7 linked regions of the Homo sapiens genome follow. The protein of the gene in region 1 interacts with the protein of each later gene in a biochemical or structural test. Each region holds a gene or a part of one and is shown on either strand. Other genes may lie near its edges. The genes, in order: SIPA1L2, GHRHR, AMOTL1, TRAF7, RPS6KA1, REELD1 and DGKH.

The links.
Region 2: the proteins of SIPA1L2 (region 1) and GHRHR interact in a test that uses a peptide from one of them, tested with the Homo sapiens proteins (one large-scale study listed by IntAct).
Region 3: the proteins of SIPA1L2 (region 1) and AMOTL1 interact in a test that uses a peptide from one of them, tested with the Homo sapiens proteins (one large-scale study listed by IntAct).
Region 4: the proteins of SIPA1L2 (region 1) and TRAF7 interact in a test that uses a peptide from one of them, tested with the Homo sapiens proteins (one large-scale study listed by IntAct).
Region 5: the proteins of SIPA1L2 (region 1) and RPS6KA1 interact in a test that uses a peptide from one of them, tested with the Homo sapiens proteins (one large-scale study listed by IntAct).
Region 6: the proteins of SIPA1L2 (region 1) and REELD1 interact in a test that uses a peptide from one of them, tested with the Homo sapiens proteins (one large-scale study listed by IntAct).
Region 7: the proteins of SIPA1L2 (region 1) and DGKH interact in a test that uses a peptide from one of them, tested with the Homo sapiens proteins (one large-scale study listed by IntAct).

The regions. Positions count from the first base shown.
Region 1 is NC_000001.11:232,459,134-232,462,633, reverse strand, and holds part of SIPA1L2 (signal-induced proliferation-associated 1-like protein 2), read left to right. Parts: intron 1-1,472; coding exon 1,473-1,747; intron 1,748-3,500.
Region 2 is NC_000007.14:30,970,453-30,973,952, forward strand, and holds part of GHRHR (growth hormone-releasing hormone receptor precursor), read left to right. Parts: intron 1-666; coding exon 667-764; intron 765-1,510; coding exon 1,511-1,643; intron 1,644-3,500.
Region 3 is NC_000011.10:94,869,356-94,872,855, reverse strand, and holds part of AMOTL1 (angiomotin-like protein 1), read right to left. Parts: coding exon 3,383-3,500; intron 2,168-3,382; coding exon 2,061-2,167; 3' UTR 1-2,060. UniProt on the Homo sapiens protein: Inhibits the Wnt/beta-catenin signaling pathway, probably by recruiting CTNNB1 to recycling endosomes and hence preventing its translocation to the nucleus.
Region 4 is NC_000016.10:2,169,282-2,172,781, reverse strand, and holds part of TRAF7 (E3 ubiquitin-protein ligase TRAF7), read right to left. Parts: intron 2,169-3,500; coding exon 2,052-2,168; intron 1,519-2,051; coding exon 1,426-1,518; intron 1,211-1,425; coding exon 1,177-1,210; intron 592-1,176; coding exon 408-591; intron 318-407; coding exon 183-317; intron 1-182. UniProt on the Homo sapiens protein: E3 ubiquitin and SUMO-protein ligase that plays a role in different biological processes such as innate immunity, inflammation or apoptosis. Potentiates MAP3K3-mediated activation of JUN/AP1 and DDIT3 transcriptional regulators.
Region 5 is NC_000001.11:26,546,761-26,550,260, forward strand, and holds part of RPS6KA1 (ribosomal protein S6 kinase alpha-1), read left to right. Parts: intron 1-106; coding exon 107-223; intron 224-428; coding exon 429-510; intron 511-3,500. UniProt on the Homo sapiens protein: Serine/threonine-protein kinase that acts downstream of ERK (MAPK1/ERK2 and MAPK3/ERK1) signaling and mediates mitogenic and stress-induced activation of the transcription factors CREB1, ETV1/ER81 and NR4A1/NUR77, regulates translation through RPS6 and EIF4B phosphorylation, and mediates cellular proliferation, survival, and differentiation by modulating mTOR signaling and repressing pro-apoptotic function of BAD and DAPK1.
Region 6 is NC_000004.12:146,224,538-146,228,037, forward strand, and holds part of REELD1 (reelin domain-containing protein 1 precursor), read left to right. Parts: coding exon 1-71; intron 72-3,500.
Region 7 is NC_000013.11:42,047,158-42,051,447, forward strand, and holds the start of DGKH (diacylglycerol kinase eta), read left to right. Parts: upstream 1-1,490; 5' UTR 1,491-1,616; coding exon 1,617-1,808; intron 1,809-4,290.

The sequences.
Region 1 (3,500 bases):
TCAAGTTTTAGTTACTTCAGTTCATGACTTTAGAAACGTCAATATTCTAAAACATCATCACTAACTAAAACCAGCAGTCCCCTTTCCGCATTTTGCTGAGTCGTGAACTGTCATGCCTGTCTGGGAAAAGCTGATTGGCATTGTGTGCACTTGTGGTAACCATGGAAACATCAGACACAGTGGTGATACATGAACCAGCCCCAGTCCCACAGCTGTACTTACTGTCATAGGTCTTATTAAATAGGTATCTATGTAGTCAGAGCATGTTTCATAGAAATGGAGTGTTCATTAAACTGAAACTTCATACATTGCCTCTGGGCTTTTGGGGATAGGAGTATGATACCTCCCAACTTGAAATTCCCACAGATAGGTGAGGTCATAGTCATCGGGTGATACTTAATGAGCCCATGTTTTTCTTTCATTGGATGTAAACTATGCTCGGTGAGTGCTTTTGAGGGCTGCATTAGTGGTGCTTTAATGTACCAAGTGGGATGCAATCCACCATTCTTCTTTCATGTTCCTTTTTGTGGAACTGCTGTTGACTCTCTCTCACTCTTGAGTAAGGTACATACACTGAGGCTTCCATTGCTTGGGGCTGCCCTCAGCCCCTAGGAGACAGGCCTAGTGGAGGAGAGGCAGCCCATAAGCACAGAGGGTCTGTCTGCTGCCTGCCAGAGCACCATCCTACACACTTGCCTTGTGAACAGATGGCCAAGGAGTCTGGCTGGCCTGCCCCCACCATGGATCTGAGTGGTCCTCACCACTCAGGCAAGCATAGGCAGTTGTCTGTCCTCAAGAGAAGGACCCTAGGGGACAGAACACTCCACAGTATGTCCCTAGGGCTGGTGCGTAGAGAACATTTAGAGTTTTCCTAAAGCTCTGACTTTCTGCCACTGCCCTTCCTGAACCTCAGAGTGGGCTCTTAAGCGTTAGCTTTCAAGTGCTTTGGGGTGTTTTTCTTTGCTTGGGATGAATAAATTGTCTCATGGTTTTTAGTGCTTGCTGGTTGAAACTTGTAATGGTCCACAAAGTCTTTACAGGTTTTCCATTGCAAAAATCCATCTAGAACGATGGGATTTATATGCTTAAAAGTCAAGTCAATTTACCTAATAAAGGAAAAACGGGAATTATCTGAGCCCATCTGAAGCTCTCAAGCTCTGGGTCAGTGACATCTAAGAAAGCAGGACACCTGTATCAAGAACAGATATGACTTAGAATGAAGAATGAAACCATTGCTTTGCTTCTGTTATTTTCTTTGCACTTGATGCAAATGTTAATTGTGATCAGCTCTGAACTTAAATGTGTCCTTGTCCTGTCACTTGGACAGTTTGAGGAAAAGGCAGAGAGAGACAGGCTGGGCTGCGAGGGCCCAAGGGAGAGGGCTGGCATGGAGGCCCATACGTGCACCTTTGGCAGAGCCCCATGGCAGCTTGGGCAGGAAGGGCATCTCTAACAGTCTCCTTCCCCCTTAGATAGTGACGAGAGGCTGCGAGACTGTGGAAATGACCCTGAGGAGGAACGGGCTGGGCCAGCTTGGCTTCCATGTGAATTTTGAAGGAATTGTCGCAGATGTGGAACCTTTTGGCTTTGCCTGGAAGGCTGGCCTTCGCCAAGGGAGCCGCCTCGTGGAGATCTGCAAAGTAGCCGTGGCCACTCTGACCCACGAGCAGATGATCGACCTGCTCCGTACTTCTGTGACTGTGAAGGTGGTCATCATCCAGCCCCATGATGACGGCTCGCCCCGAAGGTAAGGCGTGGGAGGCCCAAGTAATGCTCACTCCTCCTTTGCCTCTGTAGCAGGTGGCTGTCCTCAGTGCTCCTGCAAGGTCCTCAGAAAATGCAGTCAAGTGTGTCTTTGTACAGTGTTCTGGGATGTCACTCATTTGTACAATGTTGTTGGGATGTCACTCGTTCGAGGAATTGAAAAGGAGCTTTAAAATATGTAATAGATGATAAAAAATAATTTGCTAAGCATTTTAATGGAACATTGACTACATTAAAGCTGAGCTATTCTGAACTAAGGGGAAGAGCACCTGCCTGGTTCCCCTGGACCTCTTATATCTAAGAGGAAATAATTCTGTATCACAGCTCAGCCTTGAGCACATTAAATACTTAACTATTCAGTTAGAATTTCTTCCCATAACATGAAGCCATTGATTATTTAAAAAATATTTAACAGACCAATAGTTGTAGGTATGAAAGAATGTTGGAACAGCACAGGTACTCTCTGTGGTAAATACTCCATTCTCAATTGAAGCTTGAGAGATGTTGAACTGGTTCAGGGCGTTATCATAAACTGTCAGGAGAAATAGATGAAAAGGAACGGCTAGACTTGGAAGGTTCAGAGGCGGATAGGTGGAGGGCTGGGATAAGAACGGGGTTAGAAAGCAATACTATTACATTACTAATAGAAAATAATCATGCCCAACATAAAATATTAGGCCAAAAGGAGAAAGAATGCTAATTAAGAAGGAGCCGTTTATTGAGGCTGTGGCCCACTACTTGTGTTAATGCATGACTGGTGGTAGTATCTAGAGCACCTTCCCTCTATCTTCATTCCCAAATGGAGTTCGTACAGGCAGCCTTAAGAGCTCTGGCTTTTGAGAGACAAAGTATGCTTGGAATCCAGGAATTTGCTGTGTGGCCTGGGGCAACTCACACACTCTCTCTAAGTCTCACTTACTCTCTGTAAGATGGGATTATTATATCGCCTACCTCCTATGATTTCAATGAAGATGAAATAAAGTAACACATGTAAAGCACTTAGAACCTTCTAGCATAATTGCCCCACACATTTAATTTAGAAAAATAAAACTTTAGGGGCTGGGCGCTATGGCTCACACCTGTAATCCCAGCACTTTGGGAGGTCGAGGTGGGCAGATCGCTTGAGCCCAGGAGTTTGAGAGCAGCCTGGACAACATGGCAAAACCCCATCTCTTCAAAAAATACAAAAATTAGCCAGGTGCAGTAGTGTGCACCTGTAGTCCCAGCTACTCAGAAGGGGAAGGTAGGAGGATCCCTTGAGCCTGGGAGGTCGAGGCTGCACTGAGCTGAGATCGTGCCTCTGTACGCCAGCATGGGTGGCAGAGTGAGACTGCATCTCAAATAATAATAATAAATAAAACTTTAGCATATTCATTTTAATTTCTTTCATATGAAAAAATAAATTCTGATTATCCAAAGATAGTAGGATTGTTGGGTCTACTTTCTGGACTTACTAACCTAGGTCATACTCTCTCCTTTCTCTGTTTCCTTTCTTCCTCCTTTAAGCCAGCACTCTCCATTAGCACTTTCTACAGTGATCTGTGTCTGTACCGTTCAGAGCAGTAGCCACAAACCACATGTGGCTATTACGTACATGAACTGTAGTGCAACTTAGGAAACGAATTTTTCCTTTTAATTAATTTACATTTAATTGGCCACGTGTTGCTAGTGGCTGCCATATTGGATAGATCAGCTAAACCATGATCTCCTTTTAGGAAAAAAAGCCACTTACACTG
Region 2 (3,500 bases), on another chromosome or scaffold:
TCCCAAACCCATCATCCCATTTCTCTGTCCCCTTGATCTCTGAGAGGTAAAGCATGACTGTAACCATTTTTCAGATGGAAAGACTGAGTCAGGGACAGGAAGTGATTGCCTGGACCCCACAGGAGAGCTGGGATTGGGGCCAGTGCCCAGGCCCCTGCTCCCTTCCCTTGCCTGCACCCTCTATCTTCAGGGCCAGGCTGGACTCTGACTGATCCAAACACTTGGCCACGGAAACCTTTTGCCTGCCTGCCTGTGGCTGTCCCCAGGTGTCCCTGGCTATCTCCTTTATTTGGATACATTGTGTTCCCAAGCTGGTGAGCAAGCTGGATGTCAATAAACAAGCTGATTTCCTCTTGGGCTTTTGTCATTCCCCAGGGACATGTAGTTTCTGCGGCTGCCTCTCCTCACCCTCAGAGCATCATGAATGTTAAGCATCTCCACTCCTCGCCACTACCCCTCCCTCACCCGCAGGTCAGGTGGAAGGCAGGCTGTAAACTAAAGCTCCAGTGCACAGGGGGAGCTTTCCATGGTACTCGCGGACACCTCTGCCTCCAGATGGGGAGTGTTGGGGTGGAATGGCAAAGGCTTCACCTGCTTGATTGTCAAGCCTCTCTTTCCTCCAAAGGCCCAGAAGCTGAGACTTTCTTCTGTCTCTGCCCTTCCCAGGAATCTTACTTCTCCACAGTGAAGATTATCTACACCGTGGGCCATAGCATCTCTATTGTAGCCCTCTTCGTGGCCATCACCATCCTGGTTGCTCTCAGGTTTGTCATCCTCATCACCAGCTCAAGAACCTTCCTTGGCTCCTTATTTCCCAGAGGGTCAAGTCTGCTTCCTTGCCTACATAGCCATGAACTTCCCAGATCTAGGCGCCATACCCATGTCTAACTTTCCCTTCCCTTTTCCCCACCATGTAGACCCATCTCTTCAAACACCAGAACTCATTCCTACCTCTGCCCCTTTGCTCACGTGGTGCTCATTCTATTTGCTTGGAATTCCTCATTGTTCTCAGTGTATTTATAACTGAGAAAGCCCAGCTCCTATCTGCATCTGACAGTCCTCTGCCTCCTGCCCAGAGCCCCTCTTGACTGTTATAACTCTCTGACCACTGTCCCCTTTAAGACCCCACCCCCTCCTCCAGCCTTCGAAGTCTGAGCACTGCATCTGGCCTGTGCTGTTCTTGGTCTCATGGGGATGAGTGTCTCTGATCATCCAGGGGGCTCCCATGGGCAGTACCTGCCGTTTCTGCCTCTGTTCCCTGAGACTGTGAGCACCCTCGAGGCAGGGACCAGATATTCCTCTCTTTCCACACTTACCCTGAGCACAGGAATGGTTGCTCAGCTGTCCTGCAAGGGTTAAACTGAAGCCTCAAGTTCAGCTCAATTCAATTCAGTTTGATTGCATCCAGTTTGATTCGATTCACCTCCTGCCCTGTTCAGCCCAGTTGCAGCACACCAGAATCCCCTCTCCCTGCTTGCTTCTTGTTCCTCATTTCTCCCATTACCCCCAGGAGGCTCCACTGCCCCCGGAACTACGTCCACACCCAGCTGTTCACCACTTTTATCCTCAAGGCGGGAGCTGTGTTCCTGAAGGATGCTGCCCTTTTCCACAGCGACGACACTGACCACTGCAGCTTCTCCACTGTAATGGCCATGGGTGAAGGGGCTGGGCAGGTGGGGGAGAGAGGAGGTAGGATTACAGACCCAGATGTGCCTGCGTCAGGCTTCCCTGCCCTGTGGGCTGACCCTGGGGCTCCCGCATGGCCAATTACAGAACAGGAAAATGCTCCTTTCCCATGTCACCCCCTAAGTCCTCACGCCTTTCCTGGACTGTGGTGTCGATCCATGTCATTTCCCATATTGCATGCTCTACTCCGCGTTCTGTAGTCCAACCTAGACCACGTTTCACTATGCACAGCCTTTTCCTTTCCTTTCACCCCTCCCTGAGCACTCATAGGTCTGTGCTGGGGGTGTGTACGCAAGGGGCTGGGAGGAGCTGGGTCCCTCCTTCAGGAAGAGCCCATGGGACAGAATGCACACAGATTAGGGGACTCCCAAGTGGAGGAAGCTGAGAGCTAGGAGAGAACGAGAGGGGGCTTCAGGGAGGAGAGGACCCTGGAGCTGTATTGGCAGCAACAATAGGGAGATGGGGAAGGAGAACATTTCAAGAGGAGAGACCAGGGTGAACAAACTCTCAAAGACAGGAGGACCTGGGCCATGTCCAAGAAACTGGGAAGGCACCATGGGAGAGATGGGGTGGAGACAATAAGAGGCAATTGAAATTAAAGGGAAGTTGGGCAGAATGTGGAGACCCAGCACCTGCTAGATCCTCTGCAAGTGTGCTGGAAATGAACAGCGAAATCAGGGAGCAAACTAACACATGACCTCAATTAACTGATGAAAGAATTAATCATACTTCATACTGAGCACTTATTTTGTGCCAGGCATTGCACTAAGTGCTTTACATATGTAGTTGTCCCTTGAACAATGTGGGTTTAGTGGTGTTGACCCCCCTTTCAGCTGAGAATTCAAGTATAACTTTTGTGTCCCCCAAACTTAACTATTGATTGCCTACTGTTGACCTGAAGCCTTACCAATAACATAAATGACCGATTAACACATATTTGTCTGTTACACGTGTTATATACTGTATTCTTACAATAAAGTAAGCTAGAGAAAAAATTTTAAGAAAATCATAGAGAAAATAAAAATTGGCTGTTTTTAAATGGAAGTGGATCATCATGAAGGTCTTCATCCTCATCGTCTTTATGTTGAGTAGCCTGAGGGGGAGGAGGAAGAGAAGTTGATCTTGCTGTCTTAGGGGTGACAGAGATGGAAGAAAATCTATGTGTAAATGGACTTCAGCAGTTCACACCTTTGTTGTTCAAGAGTCAGCTGGCATTATCTCTTGAATTTTTAAAACAGCTTGAAGAAGAAAGCATCACTTTAATCCCATTTTGTAGAGGAGAGACAGTTGGCAAGGTCACCCAGTGGCACACGGGTGGGGCTGGGATCAAACCTGGGCCAACTGAACTCAGAGGTGGTCCTGCTCCCCTGCCGGCAGGTGATCAAGTCATGCAGTGAGTGAGTGAATGCACGGGTGCCTGTGTGTGTTTTTTGCAAGACAGAGCTGTGGCTGAATAAGTCACAGCTCTAGGGATTGACTTCAGCTCAGGAAGGATGGGGGTAAGTGAAAATAGAAGCAAGTCTTAGGCAGTTTCCATTTAATCCTTATGATGAGGACTTGATCTAGGTATTGGAGGTTTTTCCTTTTACAGATGAAAAGCTAAGGTGTGAGGAGATTTGCACAGGAAATAGATAGTAAATTAGAAGCCAGGCTGTCTAGATACCAAATCTGTGCTCTTAACCCTCACTGTATATCACCACATCCCCTCTTGGGTGGCCCAAGGAGCTGCAGGTCCCAGCCTAACATGGAGGGGCCTGGAGGTTCTGTATCTGAGTAGGGTAGAGGAGACTGGGATGGGGCTCCAGTGGGTGTCC
Region 3 (3,500 bases), on another chromosome or scaffold:
CCACCCATGTCCATCCTCAACCCTTTCCCCCATGGATGAGGCCTCCTGTGCCCTCTTCCCACACCCTATGGCATGGGGTGAGCTCCATGCTCAGCCTCTCAGAGCTCCTCAGTTTTCCTGTCTGCACAACAGGTACTCCGATGCTCAGTGTGAGACTAGAGGAGGTGATGAGCAGGTGGCACAATGTGCAGTGCCTATGGCCAAGCAGAGCCCCAGAGGGCCAGTTCCCACTCCTCTGTCGTACTGGGTGGCACAGAGGCTGGCCAAAGCCACTGATTTCTTCCCTTCCCTCTCCAGCTTACACCTCTTGTCTTCCTTCTGTCACCTCAATTTGGGGAGGCTATAACTTCACCGGGGTTACACACCCAAGACCAGTCCATTTTAGGATCCAAGCAAAGTTTCCTGAGTAGCACTCTCTTGAGTGTTTCATTTAGAAGGTACTTGGAAGAGGTACCCCCCTTTCTTTCTTCCTCTAAGTAAGCATGAGCAAAGGGAACTGGGAAAACAGCGATCCAGCTGACCTGGAGGTACAAAAACATCAGGACCCTGTAGGAGCATCTCTCTGATGGCCCGATGAGCTTCTCCTCTTTTCTAATCCAGCATCTCTTAGATTTGTAAAGGAAGCCAGTGTCTGCAGAGCTGAATATGCAATGTCACAGCAGAGGTCTAATGGACCCACCACCTAACACACTCCTGCCTCTTTTCCGTGGCACTTCTGTCTCACTTTGAATAAACTGCCTCAAAACTGAAACCCGGAAAAACCTGACAACACTGTATATACAACTGGCCTGGTAGGTTACAAAAGAAGTTCACAACAGAGGCAACCTGGTGCCACGGAGGTCTGGATGCTGATCGAGAGCAAGCAGAGGCGTGCGCGGGGGAGGAAAGAGTGTGAATACGCTCATGAGCCTCAATACAAGAAGCTATACGGGAGGCTGGTGAGATTCTGGAAACCACTGAGACAACTGTCTGTAAATTGTCATCTGTTTCCTGGAGTGCTGTCCTAAGTCTTCCCCAAACAGAGCAATGGAATTTGGAAATGTCAAGCTCCTTGCAAGACAGCCGATGTGAAAGACAAAAAAGCAAGTGCCACGATCTTAATGCAATATGTCACAGGGACCCACGGAATCTCCTGCCTCCTCAAAGCTTGCTTAGTTCACAGTCAGAATGAGGTTCGCAGCTGCAACCCAGCTATGCAAAGGTGAAGCAGCCAGGAAGTCGGCACGTGGCTTTGTCCTACTGGTCACTATCAAACACAGTAGGAATGATGACAGTTCAGGTACTGGTCTCATAAATCCCATACCTAAGGAATTCTGCTATGTCTTATTAAAAAGAAAAAAATGAAGGAACAACAAAAAATTAAAGACTGTAAAGCAGAGACAGAGATGAACTCAGAAGTTAGGATGGATGGGGACCGAGATCATAATCTATCCTGTTTAGAAAATACTGCAGAATTCAGAAAAGCTAAGAAGCCCAATCATCTCTTGAAAATCCAAACCAAACAGGTAATTAGGTGAAGACCAACTTTCATATTCCCCTCGCCCTCGATGCTTCTTCTCACTGCCACACTCACACTCACGGGACACCCCATGGTTGGCACAGGTGACACTGCATTATGCCAAGACAGGCTCTCAAGATTTCCTGGAGGCTTTTCTTAAATCAAACATGCTAAGAGGCAAGGAGAATGGGGGTATTCCAAGGATGATCCACATTTGGGTTTATCTGTTTATAATCAGAGAATGGGGGTACACAGGCCCTCCCCAAGAGATACATTTTCTGTACAATGAAAAATTCAGTTTCCTATTTCTTAACTTTGTTTGCAAACCTACACGCCTCTTCTCTCTTCCACCATGTGTAATAAAATCCATCGCATTCTCTTCTATCTTCAGTCATGTAGTTTTTGTGTTTAACATTTATAAAATGTGTTCTTATGAGTCTGAAATCTTTATCAGTTCAAATCATTCCTGATTTCCCATCTACAACCTTCTAGGTCTTTCTTCTTTCTCTGCCGCTTTCCTTGTTTGTCAGTGTTCTGTACTGAAATTCCACAGGGATGGCAGTTAGATGAGGACTTCCATCATCTCTCCATCAGGGAACTCGGGCTTGTGCAGCAAGCTGCTGACCCGGCCTCTGTGGTCAGGCGACTTCCCATGGCCAGGAGAGTTCTCTGCCAAATAGAGGGGAAACATCAGCTGCCCATTCCTCAGGAGGGGCATAGGCTTTCCAGGTTCTCTAAAATGGACCCACGTCCGATACCACTGCACACCCAGGATTCTCACCACAGGGCATGTGAGATGATCCAGCCCACAGTGGGAACATGCAGAATGACTGGGCCAGGATTCAGACACAAATACAAACCAGGATGGTGAAGGGAGAGGATTCAGAAGGTGAGGATGACAGTGGGACTCTGTACAGGAGCCCCTCACACCCTCTACTCAAAACTATCAGGTGCATATTCTGAGCTAGGCACTTTTGACAGGTTCTCTGGCTTACTTGGAAAAGAATCACATCTTTAAAAAGTGACAACATTGTATTTACTTGTCTACTTTGAAAAATGAAATAAACAACCCCCTTGGAGGAAACAGTTAACTTAGGGCCCACAGAGCCTGCACCTCCTCAAAAGAATTCCTGAAAAGGGAGGTCCCCATGACCATGATTAGTCTCAGGTTTTAGGATGTGGAGAAGCCAATGGTAGGCTGGGTACTCTCTGGCTACTTAAAGCCTTACCCATTTAAGAACATTTGTGGGATCCCACTGACCATGGCCATGGTACTCCTTTGCTTAAGAGGAGTGCCTTAAGAGGCCAGGTCTATTCTTACCCAGGACACTTAGGGACTCACTGCAAAGATCACCTCTCCCAAGTTGTCTTCCCGTAAATATTTTAAACAGCTCGTTAGTCCTGGCCCAAGTGCTGTGCCACACGTTAACCGACTCTGCAGGTCAATCTACCTTCTCCTTCCATCACAATGTCCTCCACTGAGGCCAGAATCCCTGGTAAGTTAGAGCCCTGAAGGCAACAGTGAACTTGTGCCTTTGATGTACCTGGTGCCTAATTCTGGCTCCCAAACATACCAGAGGGCATTCAGCCCCTTAGAGGGTCTGTTGTCACTCCATCCGGGGAAAGGTTAGTTAAAAAGTATGCATTGCCAGGGTAGTCTCAAGCCGTGCACTCATTTCAAATAGTAATAAACTAGATGTGTCTATATGCATATTTATTCCCGTAATAAGAAAGGGCACACATATCCTAAGTGCATTAGAATAGCATCCCCATAGAGTAAGAGCTGATGGGTGCCCCTGCTTCCTCTCTAGCTCAACAAAAGATTCTCTTAGGCCAGACAGTTCCACAGTTTTCAGGGGCATCAAGGTGGGGTAGCCCACATACCCAGTTTCTCTGCGGTCCCTTTGGCCGCTGGGTGTTTCAGGACGGGGCTGTGAGCAGGGGTCGTGCTCAGCCGGCCGCGGCTGGGAAGGGAGGCCATGCTGGGCCAGAAGAGCTCGGC
Region 4 (3,500 bases), on another chromosome or scaffold:
TCCTGGACGCCCTCGGCTCCCCCTCTGGGTTTCCAGGGCCTTGGGCCTCAGAGAGGATTACAGACCCCGGTGTGGCCCCAGCTCCGGCCTACCTCCCCGGGACCAGCAAGCGGGCAGCTCTCAGCGGAGCCTGTGGAGGGCCTGCGCCCACCCCGGCCCACCCCCGCCCGCCCCCCACTCACCCGTACTTGGAGTGGGGGCATTTGATGTGCTCGCACTCCTTGAGGTGGGCCTCCAGGTTCATCCTGAGCAGCGGGGGGCAGCTGGGGTTGTTGGGACACCGCACAGGCCTGTAGTCACAGCTGCCCTCGTGGTCCCTGTGCCAGGGCGGGATGCGGGGAGGCCTCAGCCAGAGCCCTGAGAAGCAGCCCCCAGGGAGGCAGAGGTGCCCAGGGAGGGGCACTTACTTCCGGGCGCTGAGCTTGATGGTGAAGGGGCACCCTCGGGGGTCCACCTCAAAGATGGGGGGCTTCCCGCTGCCCGCTACCCGGCAGCCGTGCCGGCAGTGGATGAAGAGCTCCCCGATCTGCTCGGCCACCGCGATGTTGTTCACCACCACGGTCAGTTTGACGTTGTCCACGGGACACTTCTCTGGGAGAGGAGGGCGTGCTGACCCTCACGGCCTGCCTGGCACACGCTCCCTCACCCGGGTGGGCATGAGCCTCTAATGGGGGCCAGATCTGTCCATCTGCGCCTCTGAGGCACGCAACATGGGAACGGGGGCACAGGTGGGCCACCAAGAAGGAGCAGCAGGTGCTGAGGGAGTGTCACCTGTGACACTCAGCTGTGCCCGGAAAAGTGTGGGGTGGGGCCAAGAGGGCAGAGGGCAGAGTGCGGAGAGGCAGGCAGGAGCGGGCGCCGTGCGGGAGGACGACAGCCTCGCCAGTGAGAAAGGCCTCCCCAGAGGGTGCCAACCCTGGCATGGGGAGCCTCGGCCCACACCCACTGTGGGGTCTCTGAGTCTGGACACACTGGAATTTGGGGTGTCCCCACTCTGCTCATGGAGGTCCCGAGCCTCAGCCTGAGCGTCCCTAGGACGGCTGCAGCCCCATCCCAACCCCAGCAGAGGCCAAACAGGGCCGGACGCTGTGCAGGGGACAAGGGAGAAGCCGCCCGCCTCTGCTCGGCAGCCATGGGCACGGTCGGCGTCAGGCCTGGGCCGGGGCACAAACCTACCTGACTTCAAGGCGCATCTCCTACAGAACGTGTGCTGTGGAGGCAAAGGGCGGGCTTGAGGGTGGCGCAGGGTCCTCTTTTTCCCTAGTCCATGGCCATGGCAGCCACAGGCCTCGCTGTACCCCAAGCCCAGTGCAGCCAGGACAGGCCTTGACCAAGGCCAGGGCGCCACAGCCCCGGCCCCCGAGAGCCCTGGGGTCCTGTGGGGGCCTCTGGCAGCAGGGGGGCTGGGAAGGGCGGCGGGCTCACCCCACACGTGGTGATCACGGGGTCTTTGAAGACGCTGCAGCAGAGCTGACAGCACAGCTTCACCGAGGGCTGCTCCGCAAACACCAGTGGCTCCTGGAACCAAGCGGGAAAGGCAGGCGATGGCGGGAGGCCACCCTCAGCCCCGCCACCACCCAGGCACCCAGGCGCTCTTGCTCCAGGCCTGGCTGTCCTCTGAGGACAGGGTCACGTCCTGAGAGAGGCCTGCTTAGAGCTGGGGGGCTTGATCGGGGCCCAGGAGGGAGAGCGAGGTCTGTGGCCCCAGAGGCAGGGCCCAACCCCGGAGGATGAGTTCAGCCGCCCAGCCTTGGCCGCCCTCGCCCGCCTCCTTCCTGGGGTGAGACTAGAAAGGGCCCTGCTGGAGCCCTGTGCTTCCCGCTGCCAGTTCCCGGGCAGCCCTGAGAAGGGGGAGTGGGGGAACATGCCCAGGGGACCCGGCCTGGTCCCTCGAGTCCCCACCACGGACCAGCAAGCACTGCAGTTCCCGTCAGGCCCCAGCCGCCCTCTCCCTGTGAGCTGGGCGGGCATGGCGGAGGGGAAGGTGCCTCCGTGCCACGGCTGCGGTGACAGCCCTGGAAGCCGCTCTGCGCCGAGTCCCCCACACCTACCGGCTCCTCCTCCTCCTCGGGCAGTGAGAATGTGGAGCGCAGAGACATGCTGGACTCTGAGTGCAGGGAGCGGACAGAGATGGCGGAGTCGGAGCGGCGGGGAGTGCTGATGGGGGGCTGTGTGGAGGGAGAGGCGCCTGTCGGGGGGCTCCGCACGGGGTCAGAGCCTCGGGGAGGACAGGACCCAGCCCGGCGGAAGCGCGAGGGCAGCAGCACCCCTGGGGCCACCCCGGTCCCTGCGGGTACTCTCCTCGTCCACGGGGGCCGTGGGTGGGCGTGGGGAGCTGATGCAACCCAGGTCCCTGCCTGCCCGCCTGGGCGGCCTGGGCCGGGGTGCTGGGCTGCCCGCTCACGCCTGCCACCTCTCTTTGTGTAAATGGAGAGACTTCCTGCTATTCAATTCCATATACCCGGGCTGCTTCCTGCTTCCCGTGGGGGAATGTGGGCCGTGAGGGGGCACCTCCACCAGCCAATCCTGGACAGCCGAGGCCGTGACCGCAGGATGGAAGGGCCAGGAATGCTGGCAGGGAGCGACGGCTGGGCTCCAGGTGCCCCCCGGGCCTGGCTGCTTGTCTGGCCTTGCTGGTGGGGGACACCAGGCCCAGCTGGGAGGCTCAGAGGGAAGGCAGGGCCAGGCCCCCAGAGAACCTCGGCTGAGCTTCCCGAGGGCAGGAGTGAGGGCCACAGGTGCCTGCCTCTGGCTGAGCCACCGACAAGGGAGCCTGGGGGAGGGGCAGACACTGTCCCTTCCTCCCCTCTGGCCTGGAAACCTCCAGAAGTTTCCAAGAGCCACACTGCCCAAGGCTTCTCTCCTGGTGCTTTGACTGCAGAGGGGCCCAGCTGCTGCTCTGCCGAGCCTCTGGCCCCCTTCCCGGCAGCCTGGGTATGAAACCCACAGAGCACAGAGGCAAACCAGTCCCAAGGCCGGCGGGGGGCATTGTGTGCCATGTACCCACCTCCCTTTGGGTCCCAAGGGCCCGTCTGCATGGAAGCAGCACATGGGGAACAGAAGGGAGTCAGAGAAAGTGAGTCACAAGGCCCCACAGCAGCAGAGGGAGCCCCAGGGGCGAGAGCAGAGCAGGAGCTGGCACGGGAACCACTCTCCCGGGCCTGCCCAATACTACCCCAGAGTCTCCCACCCTCTTGGGCGTAGGGGCTGACAGCAGGCAGGCCTGGGGGACGGGGGAAGGGCAGGAGGGGGACTCCCTGTGTGGGCCTATCAGCAAACAGAGAAGGTACCCGCCTCTCTTGAAAGCCACCGTGACCCATGGGGATAGCAGGTGATTATGGGAACCACAGACATGGAGGACTCGTGGCTTCGGGTTGTGGAGACCGAGGCAGGCAGAGGCCCAGGGGACGGGGCCCAGACATACCCAACTCGCCCTCGGCCTAGCACAGCGCCCGGCACACAGGTGTGTTTGTTCAATTAATTAAAAACTTCTTTTCTGG
Region 5 (3,500 bases), about 210 Mb from region 1:
CTTTAGGTTCCATCTGCTGTGGTCTGGTGGGAATGGACTTGGGCAGGGGAGCCTCCTGCTGCCTGGATGGGGCCCACCATGCCCACCAGCTCTGTCCCTCCATCAGGATGAGGGCGTCCTCAAGGAGATCTCCATCACGCACCACGTCAAGGCTGGCTCTGAGAAGGCTGATCCATCCCATTTCGAGCTCCTCAAGGTTCTGGGCCAGGGATCCTTTGGCAAAGTGAGTCATGAGCCCATAGCTGTGAAGGCAACACTCGTCATGTTAGAGGTGGGGGTCAAGGGTCACCTAGGGGCCCAAAGGATCAGAGGTCACCTTGGTACCCAGGGAGAGCAAAAAGGTCAGCTTGGGGCTCAGAGAAGATAGAGGTCAGCCTGGACTCAGACCTCTCCCATCTTCTGCCCTGCTTCCTGCTCTGCCTTCTCAGGTCTTCCTGGTGCGGAAAGTCACCCGGCCTGACAGTGGGCACCTGTATGCTATGAAGGTGCTGAAGAAGGCAACGCTGAAAGGTGAGTGGGGACACCTCCCTGTGCAGAACCCAGGCTTGGCTGAGGGAGGCAGCCCAGACTTCAAGGGCCTTGGGTCTGGCAAGGGAGACAGCTCTGTCTTCAGGAGCACCTAGTTCAAAGGTGGAGAAACAGGCCTATTTCTCAGCTATCCCTCGCCAGCCAATCCTCCTCCCCCTAAGCCAAGTGCTAGTGACTGGCTGTGAAGGTCTGGAAGGTGGTAATAGGGTAAATGCAATGTGTTTGTCAGGGGGCGGGGCCCTCAACTACCAAGCTGGTCAAGCAGAGGCATTCTGACTGTTGATGCTAGAAGAGTCTGGGGGAGACCTCTGTGGCCCCTAACTCAGGGGCCTGAGAGAAGGGCGTGAGTGAAGAGGCAGGGAGCCCAGGGAGGCAGCTGGGCTAGGCAAGAGAGGGTGAGTCCAGGCAGGGCCACAGAGCTGGATGGCAGAGAGGTTCAGAAGGGAGCCCCGAGCCAAGGTTAGAGTTCTGGGGACTTACAAAGGGTGTGAAGATGGTTGGTAGTGGGCTTTGGGTTGGATACTGACCACTTGGCCTGGGAACCAGTGTGACCACTGACCCGGCAGAGTCATAGCCAAGTCTCTCTTTAAATAAGTCAAGGCCGGGCGCGGTGGCTCACACCTGTAATCCCAGCACTTTGGGAGGCTGAGGTGGGCGGGTCATTTGAGGTCAGGAGTTCAAGACCTGACCAACATGTTGAAACCCCGTCTCTACTAAAAATACAAAGAAATGAGCTGGGTGTGGTGGTGTGCACCTCTGATCCCAGTCAGAGCCAAATCCTAGCTGGGGAGGTAGTGGGGGCAGTAGGAGGCGTCAGCCTTAAGGACGTTATGGGTGGCTTTGGTATCCTAAGGCCAGCCTGGTGGGTGTGGAAGTCATCCCCCAGGAGGTATGGTGGCAGCTTCAGAGGGAGGAGAAAGATGAAAAGCCTGGGTCCCTGCTGTGAAGGGCTCACAGGCTGGGCAGGAGAGGCTAAGCATACCCGACAGTGTGGTGCAGCCGGTGCTGTGACTGGTGTGCGTGGATATCCGACGCGCTGGGGAGCTGGGAGTGGTGGTGTAGTCTTGTAGAGGGTGGGCCCAGAGGCCAAGGGGACACCTAAGGAGCGGGAAGCCTTGGAGGATGAGTGGATTTCTCTAGACCAAAAATGTTTGAGGAAGGGGACCCTGGGAAGGAGAAACTGTTTGCCTGAACTAAAGTGTAGAGGTGGTTTGAAAATGTAAGGTAAGCTGGGTGCTGTGGCTCATACCTGTAATCCTAGCACTTTGGAAAGCTGAGGCGAGTGGATCACTTGAGGTCAAGAGTTCGAGACCAGCCTGGCCAACATGGGAAAACCCCATCTCTACTAAAATACAAAAATTATCTGGGTATGCTGGTATGCACACCTATAGTCCCAGCTACTCAGGAGGTTGAGGCACAAGAATTGCTTGAACCCAGGAGGTGGAGATTGCAGTGAGCCGAGATCGCGCCACCATACTCCAGCCTGGGCGATGAGAGCGAAACTCCATCTCAGAAAAAAAAAAAAAGAAAAAAGAAAATGTAAGGTGACCAAAATAGTTAACTCCGGTGTGGTCCTTGTCATGTCTAATGAGGAAAACACAAAAATTAAAACAGAAGAAGGGGACCAGCTCCTGCAGCCCTGTGTGCTGACATAGAAGGTGTGTTGGAAGGCAGCTGCAGCTTCTACTTGTAGCAAGGGCCAAGGATTGTGTCCTGAACAAGACTCCGGAAAGACATGCAGGAGGAGTACATTGGCCAGATCTCCTAAGATAAGCAGCTGTGAGCATCAATTCTGGAATGGCAGTGACGAATGAATAGAATTCATACTAGATGGATGGACTAGTGAAGGCTTTGGGACTATGAGGCTGGAGAGGAAACTGCCAATCCAGTACATGGACCAAAAAAGCCTTTAGTTTTGCATTGTGTGTATTGCTCAGACATTTTGTCTGGTCTTAGTAAGCACTCCCTAGCCTTCCACCTCTCCTTTTAATAAAAGTCAAGGCTGGGTGCGGTGGCTCATGCCTGTAATCCCAGCACTTTGGGAGGCCAAGGTGGGTGGATCATTTGAGGTCAGGAGCTCAAGACCAGCCTGGCCAACATGGTGAAACCCTGTCTCTACTAAAAATACAAAAAAAATGAGCCAGGTTTGGTGTGTCTGTAATCCCAGCTACTCAGGAGGCTGAGGCACTAGAATCGCTTGAACCTGGGAGGCAAAGGTTGCAGTGAGCCAAGATCACACCACTGCACTCCAGCTTGGGTGACAGAGTGAGACCCTGTCCCATTAAAAAAAAGTCAAAGGACACATGAGAGGTCTCAGTCAAGGGGTAATCAATATTGTGATAAACTTAGTTGAAACACACTGCCCAAAATGAACCTAGGCAGCCATGTCCAAAAGCCTGTTCTTTTTTTTTTTTTTTTTTTTTTCTTTCCCGAGATGGAGTCTCACTCTATCGCTCAGACTGGAGGGCAGTGGTGTGATCTCGGCTCACTGCAACCTCCGCTCCGCAGGTTCAGGCAATTCTCCTGCCTCAGCCTCCTGAGTAGCTGGGATTACAGGCACATGCCACCACGCCTGGCTAATTTTTGTATATATATTTTTTTCTTTTTTGAGACGGAGTTTCACTCTCGTTGCCCAGACTGGAGTGCAATGGTGCAATCTCGGCTCATCACAACCTCTGCCTCCCGGGTTCAAGTGATTCTCCTGCCTCGGCCTCACGAGTAACTGGGATTACAGGCCCACGCCACCACGCCTAGCTAATTTTGTATTTTTAGTAGAGACAGGGTTTCTCCATGTTGGTCAGGCTGGTCTCAAACTCCTGACTTCAGGTGATCCGCCTTCCTCAGCCTCCCAAAGTGCTAGTATTACAGGCATGAGCCACCACGCCTGGCCAATTTTTTTTTTTTTTTTTTTTTGAGGCAGAGTCTCACTCTGTCACCAGGCTGGAGTGCAGTGGCGTGATCTCGGCTCACTG
Region 6 (3,500 bases), on another chromosome or scaffold:
CCGCATGGAGCCCAGATTGCTGATGCCAAACCTTCACCAGAGGCTGGGCGATGTTGAAGGAGCTGCTCCAGGTACAGCTTGTCATTGTATTTGCCAGGCTGGTTGTCATCATTATTTTTACAGTTATCTATTTTCACTTAAAAGTTACTACTGCCAGTTTCCTGTTCCTGCAAAACAAGCAATAAACACCTGCCGTGGCCAACTGCAGCAGTTCTTGGGGATGTGATAACGCAGCAGTGAGAGGGAGGGAACGCTTGCAGTTGCTTTGTTTGTTGCAGCAAACACACTTTGTCTGGCTCAACCTAACACATTAAGTCAGGCCCCAGGGTGGACAGTGAGAGCTGTGCTGCAATACCAAAAAACAGCATACACCTCTTCCCCCAACATTTACTAGTCCTCACAATATTTCTGCTGTTTTCCTTAGTCCCCTGAAGCTACGCAGGGAGCACAAAAAAGAAATGAGCTTTTCTTCGTCTTTTCTCATAAAAACGCATCCAGTTTTTATTGTTACTTTTCATAGTAGGTAGGTGGCTCTTTGCAACCTGGGTTGGAGAACAGAATCAGGAATCACTGTTTCAATGGGAAGGGATTTTTCCTTGCTCACTACATGGCTTTATATTCCATTAGTCCATGAACTCCTGAAAAAAGAAAAGAAAAGCAACAAAACAAAGGAAAACCACTAGCCAGCTAGAGGCTGTTTGACCTATCTGAAAATCCCTGGTGGTATGGAACTCCTTTTTGTTGTTTATTTCTAGTTAAGTGCTATGAACACAAGCACTCGTAAAAGCATCCAGACACATGCACACAAGACCCTACCCTTAATCCATTCATTCTCCTCTTCGCTTATTCTTTCCTTTACTCTTTGCTAATATGTTAAGGCCAGAATCCAATCAGAATCCCTGCCTCTTCTCAGTCTAGCAGACCCAGGTACAGAGACAGTGGGGACCACCCTCCATTCTCTGCCTTTGCCCCACAACCTTTGTCTTCTTCTATTACCCAGCACAACTCCTCCAACCTTCCCACCAAGACACTCCTAAAAGCAGAGTAAAGATCTCGGAGCCTGAGACCATGGCCTGGAGAAGACCCTGCACCCCTGACATATGTTTGAAATCTCATGTTTTATTTTATGAATGATGCAAGTATCATGTTTTAATCCCAAGTATAACCATGTTTGTTTGAACATGAATATGAATAAAAGTGAAGCTTCAGGAAGAAGTGTCATGTGGAGCCTTGGGCCTTTCTATGCCTGACTCCGCTGGAAACCTTGTCCGCTGGGGGTTGCAGCCTCCAGCCCAAGCAGTTTACAGGGTAACCTCCTCATTACACTGCCCACATTCCTCTCCTTCTGGCCCCAGCCTGTCTTCCCCATTTGTTCCACTACCCAAACCCTAGTGATTCCCAAAGGAAAAAGAAACATGTATGTATGCTTGTGCACGCATGTATGTATTTATGTGCATGCGTGTGTGCATGTGTGTGTGTATGTATTCTGGGAAGTTTGTCTTTGTACAGTTAAGAAATCTATTTCACCTTATTTCATCTAATAAAGTGAAATAGGTTTCTTAACTGTACAAAGAATTCGTAGGCAAGTATAAATTATAAATTTTCAAAATTGGGAAATTAGTATATTGTATATCTGAAACTTATCTCCCAATAGACCAAGACACTTTGAGTCCTCCTCCACCCCATTAGGTATGGTCTACTTTTATATTTTAGTGCCTTCCCTTCTGACACTTCCTCAAACTGGACTGTTCCACACAACAGTTCTCTGCGTCTTTCAAGGCACAGTTCAAATATCTCCTTTGTGAAACTTTTCCTTATACTTCTTGGTAGGCAAGTATCTTAGTCTATTCCAGCTGCTATGACAAAACATCCTAGACTGAATAATTTATAAACAATAGAAATGTATTGCCTACATTCTGGAGGTTGGGAAGTCCAAGATGAAGGCACCATCAGAATAAGTGTCTGGTGAGGGAGGGATGATCTGTGCCTCAACAATGGTGCGTTCTTGCTGTCTTCACATGGTGGAAGGGGTGAACAAGCTCCCTCAGTCCCCTTTTATAAGGCTACTAATCCCATTCATAAGGGCTCCACCCTCATGACTTAAGCACCTGCTAAAAACCCCACCTCTTTACACTATTGCATTGGGGATTTGATTTCAACATATGAATTTTGAGGGGGGCACATTAAGACCATAGCGGCAAATATAATTGCTTCCTTAGCTCTGGTATTAATTGATTAATTAATTAATTTTGAGACAGAATCTCTCTCTGCTACCCAGGCTGGAGTGCAGTGATGCAGTCTCAGCTCACTACAACCTCCACCTCCTGGGTTCAAACGATTCTCCTGCCTCAGCCTCCAAGTAGCTTGGAATTACAGGCATGCACCACTGCACCCTGCTAACTTTGGTATTTTTAGTAGAGAGACAGGGTTTCCCCACGTTGGCCAGGCTGGTCTCGAACTCCTGACCTTAGGTGATCTACTTGCCTTGGCTTCCCAAAGTGCTGGGATTACAGGCGCGAGCGCCCGGCCTCTTTATTAATTTAGGTAGTTTGACATGTAAGGGTGTCTCTTCCCAGTTTTGAGTTCAGGGACACCAATTACAAGTCTGCATTATGTTTGCATCTCCAACAACTATAACAATACCCAGCACACAGCGGGTCTGCAGGAAATATCCAAATGCTCTTAGAGTTCAGGCAGGAATTTGAAACTATCAGTTTGCCATGTTCTGTATGTCTGGGCTAGGCTGCTTTATTCTTCACCTCAACGTTTTTGAGTGTTAAAAACATTGGAGCAAAGGGGTACCTCCTCCACCCCCATAAAGAACCTGGAGCCCTGGCCAGAGAAACTTCTGCCAACACTGTTTTGGTCAATGCCATCATGTCATCCTCATCATCATTGTGGTAAACCCTCTGTGCATGTTGCCTGTGTACCTGTGTGCCAGGCACCTGCTTCACGCTTCCACCTCAATGAGTTCATGTCAACCCCTCAGCAATCCTATGCTGGCCTCATTTTGCAAATGAAGAAACTAATGCTCTGGGAGGACTTCCCCAAAGCCAGAAATTAGTGGACGACTGAACCCAGAAAAGAATCTGACTCTAAAACCTGCACTTGCTTGCTTGCTGCTCCATGTGAAGCTCTTTCTCATGCTCTGGGCTGTCAGGTTAGCCAGTCACAAATGGGAAATTAGATGGTGGAGGGCATTGAAGGGCAGTGATCTCGTCTCTTCTCATAGCAGATGTTCAAGTCATTATCACCAGAGAAAGAAACTTTGAGTGTTAATATTAGGGCAAGAAAGATCTAGGGCTTTGAAAAGTCTTGATTTGTGGGATTTCACTCCTTTTTCTAGCTAGAAGCAGTTTTTGGCAGAGGTGAAATAAATATGGTGGTCACAGTGCTTTCTGTGTTCCCTGAATGGTGGCTGTTAAGAAGGTACAAGCCCAGACAGGCCAGGGACTCACTCTCTAAAAAGATATAAGCCCTTGCGTGGTCAGGGGCTTGTA
Region 7 (4,290 bases), on another chromosome or scaffold:
ATAGCAGCAGTCTCCTGTCTTTAAATATTTGAACTAAACACATTTTACATTTTAATGAATTTAATTTACAGTGTGATGTCCAGTATTGGGATTGCATACTATTTCTTAAAACTTCTTAGAACTGTTAGCTCTAATATATCAAATTTCTTGTTGGGAGTAAGACTGCAAGTTAAAAAAAAAAATTAGAACCTTAGTTTGGAGGAACCTTAAAGGTCATGTCAACTGAAAAAATACGAAAGGAATGGTACTGAAAGGCATGAACATAACAGAGATTGAATGCTTTCTCCAGGTGGAGAGACTCCACAGTCTGGCAGGGACTTTTTGTCCTATTTAAAAATATAGCTAACACCAGTTTGGTGTTCTCTTTGGATGACAAGAGGGATCTGTCGTTTTAATGTCTTCTCTCGCAGCCCCCTCACCGCAGCCCCCTCACACCTGTGAGGCTTCTTTGACGTTGAGCGTGCACAACCCGCTGCCAGTCCGCGGTTCCCAAGTGCCCGCGCAGCCAGCTTGCAGGGGAGTTGTGCGCGGTGGCTACAGCCTGTTGATCCCACTTCCTCCTGCTCTAGTCCGGGCTAGGGAGTGGCTCTGCCAGGACTTCCAAGGCTTTTTGTCTCGGGTACTGGTGTTCGCATGGCTCGAGTGTATTGTTTTCTTCCAGGCAATCTCGGTTAGCGCTTCAGCTTAGACACTTCTTGTGCGTTCTGTCGTCTTGGGCTGCGTGTAGTCTCTTGTTTCTGCGCTTTCTCCACGCCCTTCCCAGTTTCCTGTTAGCCGAAGGGGATCGCTCTTTCTGAACGAAAAGTTCTCAGAGCGGAGCTGAACCTCCCGGAAAATGCTCTTCTCTTCCGTGTGCGCCGGATGGGGGTGGGGGTGGGCCAGAAACTGAACGCCGCCGTCAGGAGAGCTGAGGGGACCCGACGGCCCTGGCGGAGGCGGGAGAGGTACGGTCCTCGGAGTGGGGCTGGGGGTGGGGAAACCGACGAGGGGCAGCCCCCGACTGTCTTGGTGGCAGAGGGGACTTTTATTCAGCTGGAACCGCGCGGCGAGGCCCAAGTGTCTCTGGAGAGATTCGGGGTTCAGGAGGTGGCGGGTGCACCCAAGGGTGCTGGGAGGAAGCTCCAGGTTCCCATTCTTCCCCAGGGATCGGCGTTGCCCCTGCTGTCCAGAAGTGAGAGGGGGTGTGCGGGCATCGCCACTACGGGGTGGGCTGCAGAGGTTTCCTGCCTCCCCCACCCTCCTGTCCATCCTAGGGACCCAGACCGTAAGGGAGTGGAAGAGATGTTGCTCCAAACCCTGTCACCCCATCCTCTCTACCCGCGCTGGTCCTATCCGAGGCTGGGTGCGCAGGGGTCCGAGGCGGGCGGGGGTCCGTTACCTCTGCGTCCCACCGTGGCCGCCGCTCCGGCGGGAACCGAGCGGAGGAGCCGGGTGGACCCCTGCCTGGAGGGCGCCTGCCCCGGGCGACCCTTACCTCGCGGGGGTAGCTAGGGAAACGGAAGATGGCGGCGGCGGCCGGGCACGGGGTTCCGGGCTCCGCTCGGGCAGAGCCCACCCGCTGACCAACGCCGCCGCCCCCGCCGGGCGGTGCTGTGTCCCCGCAGGAGTCGGAGAGGATGGCAGGGGCCGGAGGCCAGCACCACCCTCCGGGCGCCGCTGGAGGAGCGGCCGCCGGAGCCGGCGCCGCGGTCACCTCCGCCGCTGCCTCGGCGGGGCCGGGAGAGGATTCGTCTGACAGCGAAGCGGAGCAAGAGGGACCCCAGAAACTGATCCGCAAAGTGTCTACCTCGGGGCAGATCCGGACCAAGGTAGGGCGGAGGAGGCGGGCCTGAGGGCCGCGTGGAAAGCGGGAGGTGGAGAGGGCGCGGGGGCGCTGGAACGCGCCGGGCGATCCCGGGAAGGCGGGGAAGGCGGGGAAGGCGGGGAAGGCGGGGAAGGCGGGGAAGGCGGGGAAGGCGGGGAAGGCGGGGAAGGCGGGGATGGTGAGACGGTGAGGCGGGGCGGGGCCTGGGGCGCGGGCGGGGCGGGGAGGGGTGGGGCGGGGCCCGGGGGCGCTGGACCGCGGTGCTGCGGGACGGATTCCCGGCGGCTGCGCGGGAGGCTGCGAGCCTGGGCTCCCAGGGAGTTCGACTGGCAGAGGCGGGTGCAGGGAACCCGCGGCTCGGCGGGAGCGTGGGAAAAAGCTGACGCGCAGTCGCGAGTTCCTACTTAGGGAACTTAAAAGGAGAGTTTCAATTTTTCTTCCCTGCCGTTCGGGGGAGCGTGCGCATGTGCTGGCCAACCAGCCTGCGCTGCAGTGAGCCCTGCTGCTTTCCCACTTAGGCCCACTCAGAGGGTGGGTGGAAGGTGACACCGGTCAGCCTTTCCTGCCCCTCTGCCTCCTGCTGCGGTCTGGAAGGCAGAAGCCCCGAGGCAGGCAAGTGGGACATGGTGTTCGCGGCTTAACCGCACCCTGCATGGCTCCAAGGGCTGGCCAGGCTTTCGTGTCGCAGGTTCCCGCCAAGTGCAGGCAGGGTTCAGAACCATGCGTCCATGGTTCTTTTTAATAATGAGAAGTTACCTCTGTGCTGTGTGGACATTAGGATGGTGTGTTACTCTTGTTAATGAAGCTTGTGCTGTCGACCTGTGAGGTCTCAAAGTTAATTTTTAATTTGATCATGAACATACCAAAGCAAATGCTTATGGATATTAAAGGATTTTTATGTATTCTAATTTTCATTGTAATTTAAAAATCTTCACAGAGAGAGTCTGTTATCAGTAGGGAAATTTAACGAGGATATTGAAAACGGAACCACAAAATCATTGGCTTGGGGTACCGTTTTTAAAAATAAATTTGCAAAAAATTCATTCTACAGTTATTTTTATGAAAAATTTTCCCTAAGGTCAATGAACTCCTATTTGGAAACATAATTTTTATTCAGTGCCTGTGGAGGCCGGTAACGGTGGCTCATGCCTGTAATCCCAGCACTTTGGGAGGCCAAGGCAGGCAGATCACTTGAGGCCAGGAGTTCCAGACCAGCCTGGCCAACATGGTGAAACCCCATGTCTATTAAAAATAAAAAAATTAGCTGGGCTTTGAGGCGTGCACCTGAGATCCCAGCTCCTCGGGAGGCTGAGGCAGGAGAATCGTTTGAACCCGGGAGGCGGAGGTTGTGGCGAGCAGAGATTGTGCCACTGCACTCCAGCCTGAGCGACAAAAAAAAAGCTAGTGGATTAATGTTTGTAGTAGCCTGCCTCCTTATTTTCTGAAATACATGTGTGTAAGAACAACACACAAGAACAACTGTTGACAAGATGCACTTACTAAAGAGTTAGGGATTCAGTCACTTTAGTTAAGAGTACATCTTGTAACTCCTTTTAATAGTGACGTTTTTGAGTTTGTAGTAAATTAAGAATATGGCATTTAATGTGTTTTTTAAGATTAAGGCTTTTACAAAGTTAGGGACTTTCCTAAAAGTGTTTTTAATATTTCAAATCTTAATTCTGAAAAAAGTTCATAAACTGTGTTAATGATGGGCAAAATGGCAGGTAAAAAAAAAAATTGTATAGGGGCCGGGCATGGTGGCTCACGCCTGTAATCCCTGCACTTTGGGAGAACAAGGTACCTGAGGATCACTTGAGCCCAGGAGTTCAAGGCTGCAGTGAACTGAGATCTTGCCATTGCACTCCAACCTGGGCAATGAAGCGAGACTGTCTCTTAAACAAACAAGCAAACAAACAAACAAACGTGTATGTTACATATTTATATGAAATGGTCAAAATTCCATGCATACTTATATCAGGATTAACCAGTAGATTTATACTGTTCGAAAGAAAACTGAGAGATGGCTCTAAATTGAATTGAATCATGTCAAACAACAAATTTGTTGGGAGTACCACTGTATTTTATAGGTTTCATGCGCTCGTTGTAATAGCTAAGATTATATGCTTATGGAGACTACAAGTAAATTTAAAAAGCACATTATTTGTGATTTTCTATCTGACTTTCTAATAAAAACATTTAGCACATACATTTTGCCATGAGAGATCATTTTTGACTATGAAATCAAATATTGCTTGAATTTCAAAAGTGTATTGAATGTCAGAAATTCAGCATTTTACAATTTCTCCTATGTTAGAGTGCATGTAAGTTCATCAACATTTTCATATATGAACACTTGAGATCAGGGTATAAGATTCTGAGACCAGTGAGCTTCAACCTCATACCCCGCCTCCTGCAACTGGACTGTTCATGTATGTCACAGACTTCATTATTTACGTCTTTTATCACATATACTGATTCTTGGGGAA